3 linked regions of the Homo sapiens genome follow. The protein of the gene in region 3 purifies or fractionates together with the protein of the main gene of each other region. This does not show direct contact. Each region holds a gene or a part of one and is shown on either strand. Other genes may lie near its edges. The genes, in order: ZSWIM8, PPP1R12B and NUAK1.

Evidence for each region.
Region 1: the proteins of NUAK1 (region 3) and ZSWIM8 purify together in Homo sapiens (affinity purification with mass spectrometry; one large-scale study listed by BioGRID and IntAct). This does not show direct contact.
Region 2: the proteins of NUAK1 (region 3) and PPP1R12B purify together in Homo sapiens (affinity purification with mass spectrometry; 2 studies listed by BioGRID and IntAct, with this or other methods). This does not show direct contact.

The regions. Positions count from the first base shown.
Region 1 is NC_000010.11:73,798,844-73,802,338, reverse strand, and holds the end of ZSWIM8 (zinc finger SWIM domain-containing protein 8), read right to left. Parts: exon of another isoform or gene 3,338-3,495; coding exon 2,849-3,337; exon of another isoform or gene 2,329-2,848; coding exon 2,169-2,328; coding exon of another isoform or gene 2,145-2,168; exon of another isoform or gene 2,044-2,144; coding exon 1,867-2,043; exon of another isoform or gene 1,700-1,866; coding exon 1,580-1,699; exon of another isoform or gene 1,323-1,579; coding exon 1,144-1,322; exon of another isoform or gene 1,024-1,143; coding exon 820-1,023; coding exon of another isoform or gene 563-819; 3' UTR 546-562; downstream 1-545. UniProt on the Homo sapiens protein: Substrate recognition component of a SCF-like E3 ubiquitin-protein ligase complex that promotes target-directed microRNA degradation (TDMD), a process that mediates degradation of microRNAs (miRNAs).
Region 2 is NC_000001.11:202,425,055-202,428,705, forward strand, and holds part of PPP1R12B (protein phosphatase 1 regulatory subunit 12B), read left to right. Parts: intron 1-511; coding exon 512-671; intron 672-1,985; coding exon 1,986-2,130; intron 2,131-3,651. UniProt on the Homo sapiens protein: Regulates myosin phosphatase activity. Augments Ca(2+) sensitivity of the contractile apparatus.
Region 3 is NC_000012.12:106,079,848-106,083,498, forward strand, and holds part of NUAK1 (NUAK family SNF1-like kinase 1), read right to left. Parts: intron 1-3,651. UniProt on the Homo sapiens protein: Serine/threonine-protein kinase involved in various processes such as cell adhesion, regulation of cell ploidy and senescence, cell proliferation and tumor progression. Phosphorylates ATM, CASP6, LATS1, PPP1R12A and p53/TP53.

The sequences.
Region 1 (3,495 bases), on a different chromosome or scaffold from region 3:
AGCCCCCAGGCCTGAGATGGCTGAGAAGGGAAGGGTATCCTTTTCCCACAGTTCTGGGACAAATAAAGGGGCTTCCTTTGGTACCCCACATAATAGTGCTAGGTACCTTTGACCCATCATCTTGGGAGGTGGGGAGGAATGAGAGGGTCCAGGCAGGGTGTAGGGGAATGTATTAGTCCAATGAGATTTCCCTCTTCATCCGCAGCAGTGTATCTATTCTATACCTGGCTATGGGAGAGACCCCTTGCATGGGAGGGACCCCTTGCTATGGCCCCTTTAGCCAGGCAGTGGGATCTACCTGTGGCCCGGCCTCCCTAATGTCATTCACATTGAATGGGGATGAGGTCGGACAGTGGCTCATAGAGCCGAGTATGAGCCCTAGCTGTGGGCTAGAAATGTCCTTAATAAACATCCTTATTTTTCTGTTTTGTCTGCCTCCCTGGAGTGGGAAAAACCTAGACTAAAGCAAGTGTCAGAAGTTTCCTCCCCAGTTGAAGGTTCATCTGCACATGGAATTTGGAAAGAAGGGAAAGGCCCAGGTCGACTAGAGTAAAAAAGGAGTTTATATATTTATAAATGCCAAATAAATACCAGAGGCCACCCAACGCCCCCTCCCAGACAGGGCTGTCTCCCCCAGCCCTAGGCTTCTAGGGTGTGAGACATCTTGGCCCCAAGCTATAGCCCAAGAGCAGCTGTCAGTCTGTGCTACCAGGGAACTGAGTGAGGATGATCTGTCCAGCCAAGTTTCACTCCCCCTGTGTGAGGGGCCCCCATAGCCACAGGCCTGGGTCCCTGTATAGGACCCTAAGGGTGAAAGACTCAGGGGGAGAAGGTGGCCATCTCGAGTGAGACCCGCTGCCACAGCTCCTTGGTCTGTTTGCTGCGCTTGAGGTTCTGTAGGATGTCGTTGAACTGCATCATGCCCATGGGCGTCAGGCAGAAGGCGCTGCGGGCACTCCGGATCGCATTCACAAAGTCGTCGTAGTCCGCAGGAGTCAGGTGAATCAAGCGGTGGTGGATGTACTGGAGGAGGATGTGTGCAGGATGAGCCTTAGTACAAAGCACAGAAACAGGCCCTGCCTCCCTCTGGTCCAAGACCACCCAGGAAGTGCTCCACCCTGCTCCATAATTCTAGGTTGTCACCTGCATGTATGCCTGCTGGCAGCGCTGCACCAGTTGGTGGAAGGCCGGGGCACGCAGGTGGTTGTGGGCATGAGCGGGACTCAGCCGCTGCAGCGTCTCCATGACGATCTCCTGCAGCACAAACGGGCTCAGCACCCCCTTGGCTGCCCCCACACAGAACTGGTGCACGTAGTTCACTCCTGGGGGGCAGGGGGAGGGGCATGAGACGGGGGTGGCCACCTCTGCCCTAGGGACCCAACTTACAGATCTCAGCTCTGGCCTGGCAGAGAGCCTCCCTCCACCCCAGGAGCTGAGGTAACCCTCCGCCCCCCGCGCACGCACACATACCCGACCAAGGCCTCAACTCTGAGCAAGAGCTAGGAAGGAGGTCTGGGATAAGGAAGGTGGGGAGAGCAGGTGGGGGGGGGGCAATGGTCCTAGGGAGGGGAGGTGTTACCCAGCTTTGCTGCCAGCCCCAGCAACCATTTGACATCATCAGTGTAGGGGGGGGAGCGGGAGAAGTTGTTGGGGTGATCGTTGTGTGCCCGGCGACCCAGCATCTCCAGTGCCAGCATTCCTGGGAGATAGATAAGGGTGGGCACATGGTACGGTGTATCCTCTTCACCCTTTACCCCAACCTGTCACCTGACCCCACAGTAAACAAATGAAGAGCTAGAGGAAGGGTCCTCTGAAGAGCCACTGGCACAACTGCAGGTAGGAGCACAGAAAGGGATGTCCTCTCACCGACACGGTAGGCAGCATGCAGGTGGTGCAGGCTGTGGGGATTGACTGGCTGACTGTGTGTCTCCTCCTCGGGCGGTGGAAAACCTCCGCTCACCAGAGGGCTGGGCTGTGTGGTCAGGGCAGGCAGTGAGGCACCTTGGATGGCTGGAAACGTGGATGCTGGATGGACACTGCTCACTAAGTGGGGTGAGAGCCATGTGAGGAACTCAGAGCCCAAAGAGAGACAAAGAACATTCCCTCCCCACCTCCCCTGCCCAGTGTGCCTCCCCTCCATTCACCTGTTCCCTGGCCCCACAACTCACAGGCCACACTGGTGGGCAGTGGAAGCCCTGGCTCTGTGTGGTAGGGATGTACTGTGATGGGTGCCATGGAAGGAACGGGGAAAGACACAGCAGTGGCAGCAAGTGAGGGAGGAGTCACTGAATAAGGGTACTGAGCCCCTAGGAATGCAGGATGCACACCCTAGGGGCAGGGAGAAGAAAGGGGAAGATGCCAAACTTGATTAGGATGTTGCTGTCGTGCTTCACCCCCACAAGCTGCTATCCTGACATGTTTTTTTTGAGATAGAGTCTCGCTCTGTCCTCCAGGCTGGAGTGCAGTGGCACGATATCGGCTCACTGCAACCTCTGCCTCCCAGGTTCAAGTGATTCCCATCTCAGCCTCCCAAGAAGCTGGGATTACAGGCGTGCACTCAGCTAATTTTTAGTAGAGACGGGGTTTCCCCATGTTGGCCAGGCTGGTCTCGAACTCCTGACCTCAAGTGATCCACCCACATCGGCCTCTCAAAGTGCTGGGATTACAGGCATGAGCCACCATGCCCGGCCGTCATTTCTTATTTTAGTTGGGCTGGGTCCCCCAGACTCCCACCACCTCACCAGGACTCTCCGACTGACCAATTATACTCCCAGAGTACCCACTCCAACCCCCTATGAATTCCCAGTATTTTCCCATGCCTTACCCCCCAGCAGAACACTGGTCTCACCTGTGGGTATGCAGAGCTGGGCACAGGGAAGACGGCAGGCCGGGGCATGTGAGGCATGGGGTGGGCAGGGTGAGCTGGGTGAGTGAGATACTGAGGGCTACAGGGCAGGTGGGGCTGTAGAGCAGTGTAGGGGTGCAGGCCAGGGGAGTGGCCATGCCCCAGTCCTGGACCCGGGTATAAACTAGACCCCACCGATATGACGGGCACCACTGTGGCTGCTGCTGTCACTGCTGCCGCTGCCACTGTAACCGGCTCAGTCCCTGGGCCCCCTCTACCCTCAGGCATACCCCGCCCAGCTTCCCCACCTGCCCTGATCCCACTGGCACTACAGCTTGTAGCCCCTTCACGGGCTGTGGATGAGCCACCTGCAGTTTGCTCATACAGCCAGAACCACTGGTGAGCAACCTCAAACAACACTTCAGGGTACACGCCCCCACCCTTAGCTGCCTCTTCCACTGCCATGCAGGCCTTCTCCAACATCAGGTTGTCCTGGAAGAGAGGGGCACAGAGTGTTAAGGGGGAAAGGCCTTTACCACATGGAAGGTGTTAGATGAGATTCCAATGTCTCCCTCAGAGCTGTCTCATTCCCAGGGAATCATCAGAGGTCAGTGTCAATGCTTAGAGTCCATTATCAGAGCAGTGAGTGC
Region 2 (3,651 bases), on a different chromosome or scaffold from region 3:
TGACAGAGAGGGACCCAGGATATCGGAGTTCTAGCGGCAAGTTCTGTCACTAATGTGTTTTGTGGCTTTGAGCAAGATTCCTAACCTTTCTATTTTTATTTCCTCATCTGTTAAATGAAGATTGTAATATCTATTATATTTACCTTGAAGGATTGTTGGGAAACTAAAGTCATATAACATGTAAAAAGACTTGGAAGTTTATAGCTTTGTACAAATATTATAATGTAAAAATAATGTCCCCTTTGTCTTTATGTTCTGTTGAAAACAATTTTAGGTGCATTCCCTTAATGGATCTGTATCACATAATATTTAACCTGATGATTTAATCCTGGTAAGACCATTAATATGTGTACAAATGCCATTGATCTTCTAAATTTGATAATTACCCAACTTGATGGCTAAATTGTTATTTGTATTTATGTTTATGATGTGCTTTAATCTAAGGAAAATATCCTGTCAAACTTAAGTGGAGCTTTAGTAATCCTGGCTGTCTGGTATCTGGTTTCTGTAGGAGTTGATCTAGAGCAGTCAAGAAAAGAAGAAGAGCAGCAGATGTTGCAGGATGCCCGCCAGTGGCTCAACAGTGGGAAAATAGAGGATGTGAGGCAGGCTCGCTCAGGGGCTACAGCCCTTCATGTGGCTGCTGCCAAGGGCTACTCTGAAGTCCTCAGGTATTGTCCATTTACATCAATCAGGAGTGGTTCACTGGGAGAAGATGGAATAGGTTTTGGAAGCAGAGGCTGAATTAGATTTTCCGCTATGACGTGTTTCCTTTTTTGTTGGTTTCCTCTCTGATTGTGCAGTCTTTTCTCACATTTTGCTGGTATTCATCCATGGATTGTCTCCCTCCCTCCTACCATTCCTCTAGCTTCTCACTAACATGTATGATGTGAAACAGAGTTGAGGTACATGGTCCTAGGAGGGGACTTCTTCCAGTTCTCTGATTTGTCATTAATATCCCTGCAACGACCTCTTCTTGTGACCTGTAATACTTGTGATCATTTGTTCCGTTTTGACTTATATAATTTCTTTTGTGTCATTAGATTAATTATATAGATCTTGAGTATGCGATGTCCAGCTGGCACAGGATAGCCAAACTTATATGAGGGATTTGGACTCTACTACTCTGTCTGTTCCATTTTTCCTTACATCCATACATGCTTCTTGTAGCTCTTGGTACTTAATGTTCACAGGCTTTCCCAAATACATGGGTTGCCAAAGGCATTATATGTGCAGTTGTTAACTGGACTCTTCCAGTATTTCATATTTCACCTAATGCAGGGTTTTTAATAGGTATAGCAGTGTTTTGGTGCTCCATTTCTGCCTGATAGCGCTATCCATAAGGGCCCCAATGTGGTTTGGGTCTTCAGGAGTCAAATCTTTTCTCTTCCATGCATACAAGTTAAATTATAGCTTTATAGTTAGCAAAAAATTGGAGATATGTGGGTATATGGTAAATATAGTGTCCTAGAAAGACCAACCAGAAGGCTAGTTGGGAAAATACCCTGAAGAGAATTGAGTCTTCATTTTATTTTATTTTTTTAAACTTTATCTTTATTGTTGACACTATTACAGATAGAGAGAATGACCACAGCCTATTAGAGTCTTCATTTTATATGTTACTTCTTCCCTGCACTGGAAAATGGAAAATGTACCTTTAACAGAGTTATGTGATTTGGCTAATTGAATTATGCTTTGGTTAATCTTAGGTACATACGTTTCCGTATACTCCCCTTGTATGGTGTAAAATGGATATGCCTAGGAAATATCTTATGACTTTTTTGAGAGGATTGGTAAAGGTCATCTATGATTGGTACGCAAAGTAGTTAACTATGAAACCCAAACTGTGCCTTAGAGGGCAGAAGTAATCATAAGACCCCTGTGGTTCAGGGCCAAAATCTGAAATATCAATTAGGTAATAGTGTATTTGCCAGAAAATTGTAATATACAGAAGATATATGTCTTGTTTTGGGTTTTCTTTTTAGACTTTTAATTCAGGCTGGCTATGAACTCAATGTTCAGGATTATGATGGCTGGACTCCCCTCCATGCTGCTGCACACTGGGGAGTGAAGGAGGCTTGCTCCATCCTGGCAGAAGCACTTTGTGACATGGATATTCGAAATAAACTGGTTAGTGAGCCTGAACCTCTAAAAGAACAACGAGATTGGTGGCTGGGTCTCTAGAATAAAAGGCTTAACATCTCTTTTCAATGGCAGTCTGACTGTTGTGAAATATACATCACTGGTAGCTATAATGTTACCCTCCACCACCCTGCCTCTGGCCCTATTAACACAGAGTTATGTTTGTTATTTAAAATAAAACTCCGTGGACCTTCTGATTGTATTTATGTTCAAGCCTCTAAAACAGGAAAAAAATATATTTGTTCTTGGCAAAAAATGAGCTTTGAGGAGCCTAATGTTATTGTCTGTGGTGAGGTATGAAAGATTTTATTGTTGCTGTATTCATGTGAGTCATTAAAATGTTATAATGACAAAGATCCTTGAGTTTGGCTGAAAATAGTGTTATTCGGTCTCACTTCAAACAACTTAGAAGCTCTGGAACTCCTATCCCTATGTCTACTGATTTTATTTTATTATTATTATTTTTGAGACAGAGTCTCGCTCTGTTGCCCAGGCTGGAGTGCAGTGGTGCGACCTCAGCTCACTGCAGGCTCCACCTCTCAAGTTCACGCCATTCTCCTGCCTCAGCCTCCTGAGTAGCTGGGACTACAGGCACACGCCGCCACGCCTGGCTAATTTTTTGTATTTTTTTTATTAGTAGAGATGGGGTTTCACTGTGTTAGCCAGGATTGTCTCGATCTCCTGACCTCGTGATCCGCCTGCCTCAGCCTCCCAAAACGCTGGGATTACAGGCATGAGCCACCATGCCCAGCTGATTTTATTTTAATTAAACTAATTTTTTTTTTTTTTTAATGGTAGAGATGGGGGGTCTCACTGGTTTCCCAGCTGGTCTCAAGCTCCTGGGCTCAAGTGATTCCCAGCCTTGCCACTTGTAATCCCAAACTCTGTGTTTAAAGGATTTGGTGTTTCTCGTTATGTGTCCTCTGTGATAGATGAAGGTATTATCATAATGTATGGTAGACTAGTTAGGGAAGCAGTTATTATTGGAATTAAAGGCAAAAAGTGAATATTGAATAATACTGAGTAATCCCAAATTGTTGGGATTACAGGTGTGAGCCACTGTGCCCAGCCCATATATGTACTGATTTTCTAGTAGTGCAGAGATATGGCCTTTTAATTAGTAGATATTCTTATCTGTGTCACATCTCTCCTGAACCCAGGTTTCATTCTCAGACTGTGGGTCAGGGTTCTTAATTATGCTGATGCTTCCTAAAAGAATTAACTTTCTTGTCAGTCCTCCCCTCACTTAAAGGAAGATGATTCCTGTGATTTAATCTTTATTAAACATGTGCCCTGAACCTCCCTCTGAAGTTTTGAAGAGCCCTTTATGGAATTTATCATAGCAATTAAGACCATTTTAGAACAGATACAAGTAGGGATTTCACTTGATTATTTGCCAGGTGGCAGTAAGGATTAGAAATGGTGTGATTTCTGCAGTACTGTTGTACAAACTCTATATTTAAAGGATTTGGTGTTTCTTGTTATGTGTCCTGTGTGATAGATGAAGGT
Region 3 (3,651 bases):
AACAACTGCGAGATCCTGAGTTCCAAGACAGAAATTTGGCCATCTAGTTCACTATTAAATCCCCAGCACAGGGTCAAGTACACAGTAGGACCTTAATGAATATTTCTGATCAAATAAATATTGCCCAGAAAAGACGTTCAATTCCTCAGTGAATAAATGCAGGAATGGATGAGTGAATGCAGGTATGCGTGGATATATACACACAACACATGAATTGATTAATTCATGCATGAACACAGAGCTCTCCCATTCATATCATCAAAGCCCAGAGGCTGACTCTCAGCTGCCCCACTTGGTCTTATTAAGCTTCAGAGGTTTCTATCTCATCTTGGCCCTGGCCATTCAAAGCTTCTTTTCTTATCCACAGCAGCCGCGCTTCCATTGTCTTAAGGGGCAGCAGGCCATTTCCCCTATGCCCCTCTACTCTGAGCCCTGGGAGCTCACCAGATTCCCAGCCCTCTTGGAGGAGGTCGGCTGACCCTGGTGCCTGGACCTCTTCTCATTGTAAGACATTTTTACAGGAGCCTTCTATGGGAATTGTCAGCATTCCATTCTCCCAGAGAGTGGGCTGTGAATTTGGCCCGTTTTTTATTAATTGCAAATTAGTGCTGTGCTTGGTGTCTATTTTAGTAGACATGCTTCCAGAGTACGGAATGCAGCCCAAAGCAGCACATTGCTCTCATTCTTTCTGCTGACCGACTGTGTGAATATTTTTAGAAACCACACCCTCTCGCAGTGCCAGATAAATAATTTCCAATGCCAGATGTGTGCTCTGCAAATCAACATCAGGCAGGGAAGGGGAGAGGAATGAGCTACATGGCTCTCCCCACCACTGCAGCGACATGTGACAAGTTTAAACCAGTAGCATTTATATAGGCTTCCTAGGCCAAAGTCCTCCACCCTTGAAACGTGGAAAATGGATCCACATTTAGAGAAGCACCAGAGGGGGCTCCAAGAGAGGATCTTGCTGCTCATGTCCCGCTGGTTCGTGGCTCGTGTGTCTGTGGTCCCCCAGGTCCAGACACGGATGGCAGGGGCTCTCTTGAGCACAGAGGCCGGCTTGTGGCCATGTATCTGCCTGCCTTTGCCAGCATGGGTCCTTTCTAAATATGTTTCAGCAAAATGCTGAGTCAGGAAGAGTTGAGAATATACCACCAGAAGACAAATCAAGACCAGCTGAATCACATTTTTTTAAAACCTTGGAAGTGGATGGGAGATGATGAAAAGATAATTTGCCTGGAAGTCAAACACATGAGTTCTAATCCTGGCTCATCATTCCTTTATTCCAAAATCAAACCATTTTGAAGTACCTACTGTGTGCCAAGCACTAGTCTACACTCTGGGGAAGCAAAGACACAATAATTTAGTCCAGACTGATTCACTGTGTGATCGTGGGCATTATCCTCTAGACTTTCTGGGTCTAATCATTAAAACAAGGGGTTGGAAAAATGACTCCCAAAGTTCTTTAAAGATGTAGGATTCTCAGACCTAAGTAGGATTCCTTGAACAAAGAGGAAAGGAATTTAAAAGTGTTGATAATGGGAAGATCTGGTTTCTCTTTGGGACGTATGTGTGCATGCACACCCGTGCTTTACCTTGGGAAATGCCAGGATTAGAAATTCTTAAGGAAAGGTATATGCCTAAGCCTTAATTGATAATACTGCTTTGTGTGTGTGCTCTTTCCCTCCATCATGCACAGGCACCCTAGGTTGAAGAACTTGGTGCAGGGGAACTGTCAGGCCCAACATCATTGCCCTTTTGCTTACACAAATGAAGCCATTCTCCTGGGCTCCTGCCTCACTGTTTCCCTGCACAATTGCTTTCAGAATTCTAATCATTCTTTTCCTCCATTAGGGAATTACATGATTTCATAGAAAGCTATGTGTCTTATCACTTCTGGGAATACATCATGGGACCAAGAGGTCACACTGCACCATAGAACCCAACCCCTAGGCAAGAGGCTTACATTCCAGGCCTTGTAAAGATGACATTTAGTTTTGAGAGCTCTGGGGGCAGGTGGCAGGAAGGATCTGGAGAGGAAGTCAATAAGGTTGATGACACAAACCCTTAGAAAAATGTGGTGGCCCTCAAACCAAGACCAATTTTTCAGCCATGGCCTGACCACCACTCCCCAGGACCTAGGTAGGCACCTTCAGAGCAGCTGACTTCCGGTTCAATTCCCTCTCCAGTGGCCAGCCACTTAAGAAGGCTCCCAGTATAGTAACAGTTAAGCATGAATTGCTTTGATTGTAGTATTGTCTAAAATCTTCACGTTTATTATTGACTCTCCAGGACTGGGCACAGGGCATTGCACACAGTAACAGTTCAGAAAATACTCCTTGAAACAAAAATGAACAAATAAACAATAATCTGCAGAGACAGGAACTGGCAACTCTTGACAGATGAGGAAACTAAAGCCTAAATCATCAAGAAACTTACCCCAAATCCTGCCATTACTAAGGGGCAGGGTTGAAATATCTAACTCCAAAGCCACTGCTTTTAACTTTGACTCATTTGGACACGAGTGCTTAGCAGTTTACAAAACTAAACACAGAGTGTCTCATTCACTGCTCTAAGCAGGCCTGTGAGTAGTACTGTTACCCCGTTTTACAGCTGAGGAAACAGGGTTAAGTGGTTTTCCCAGTGTCAAGAAGCTAGTAAGCCATACAGCCCGGAATTTCCTAACTCTACAACCAGTGCTCCTTCTAGAATAATCCAACCACTTTGCCAGAAATAGACCCTGCGATTCCACTTCCTATTCCCATGGAGAACTACTTTGACCAACTATTTCCTGCTTATTCTATAGACTACATGTGACTACGGTCAAACACTCTGCAAGAGCAAGAGGTCACTGGGTCATGGCTTCCAGGGGCCTCTCAAAGGATGATGGTGACTAATGGTTGCTGCCATGATCTGTACAGAGAATCCCAACACCAAAGCAACTCCATCCTTCCAAGCAAGGAAACAAGTCTCATCACACGCTCCTCCACTGATAGCAGCAACAACAAAAAAATCATTCCCATGCTTTGCCCAGGGACCAGGGATAAGCCACTAACGTCACCAGCGGCCAATTGGAGGGCTCCTGCTGGTGCCGGGAGTACTAAGGCCGTTTCATAATGAAACCCATGCAGCGAGCTCCGTTTATTTTGAAACCGTATTTGCTTATTTTGTAGACGTGGTCAAAAGGACATTCAGAGGGCTCCCTGGGAGGCACTTGAACCCTGTGGGCCAGGAGAACTTTCTCCAGCTCCAGCAGCAGCCAGCAATAATACTCTCCGTGCAAGTAAACTCCAGCACTTGCTATTTCCCAACAGCAAGCACCATCCCCATTTTAGTCAGCTTCCCAGGTCTATGGCTGGTTTCAGGGGTGGGAAGGTGGAGAGGGAGAAGTAGGAGACAGGGTGGAGAGTGACAAAGAAATAGCCAGGCAAAGAGTTCCAGCTCTAAAATAATTTAGGATCCTGCTAGCAAATCAAGCAAAGCGACTTGAATTTGGGCTCGTGAAATCAGACAGACATGGGTTCAAATCCCAACTCTACTCTTTACCACTGGATTACCTTGGGCAAATTACTTAGTTTTTCTGTGCCTCAGTTTCCCTATCTGTGAAATTATGTAAATAACAGTACCTACCTTGTAGAGTTGTTGTAAAGA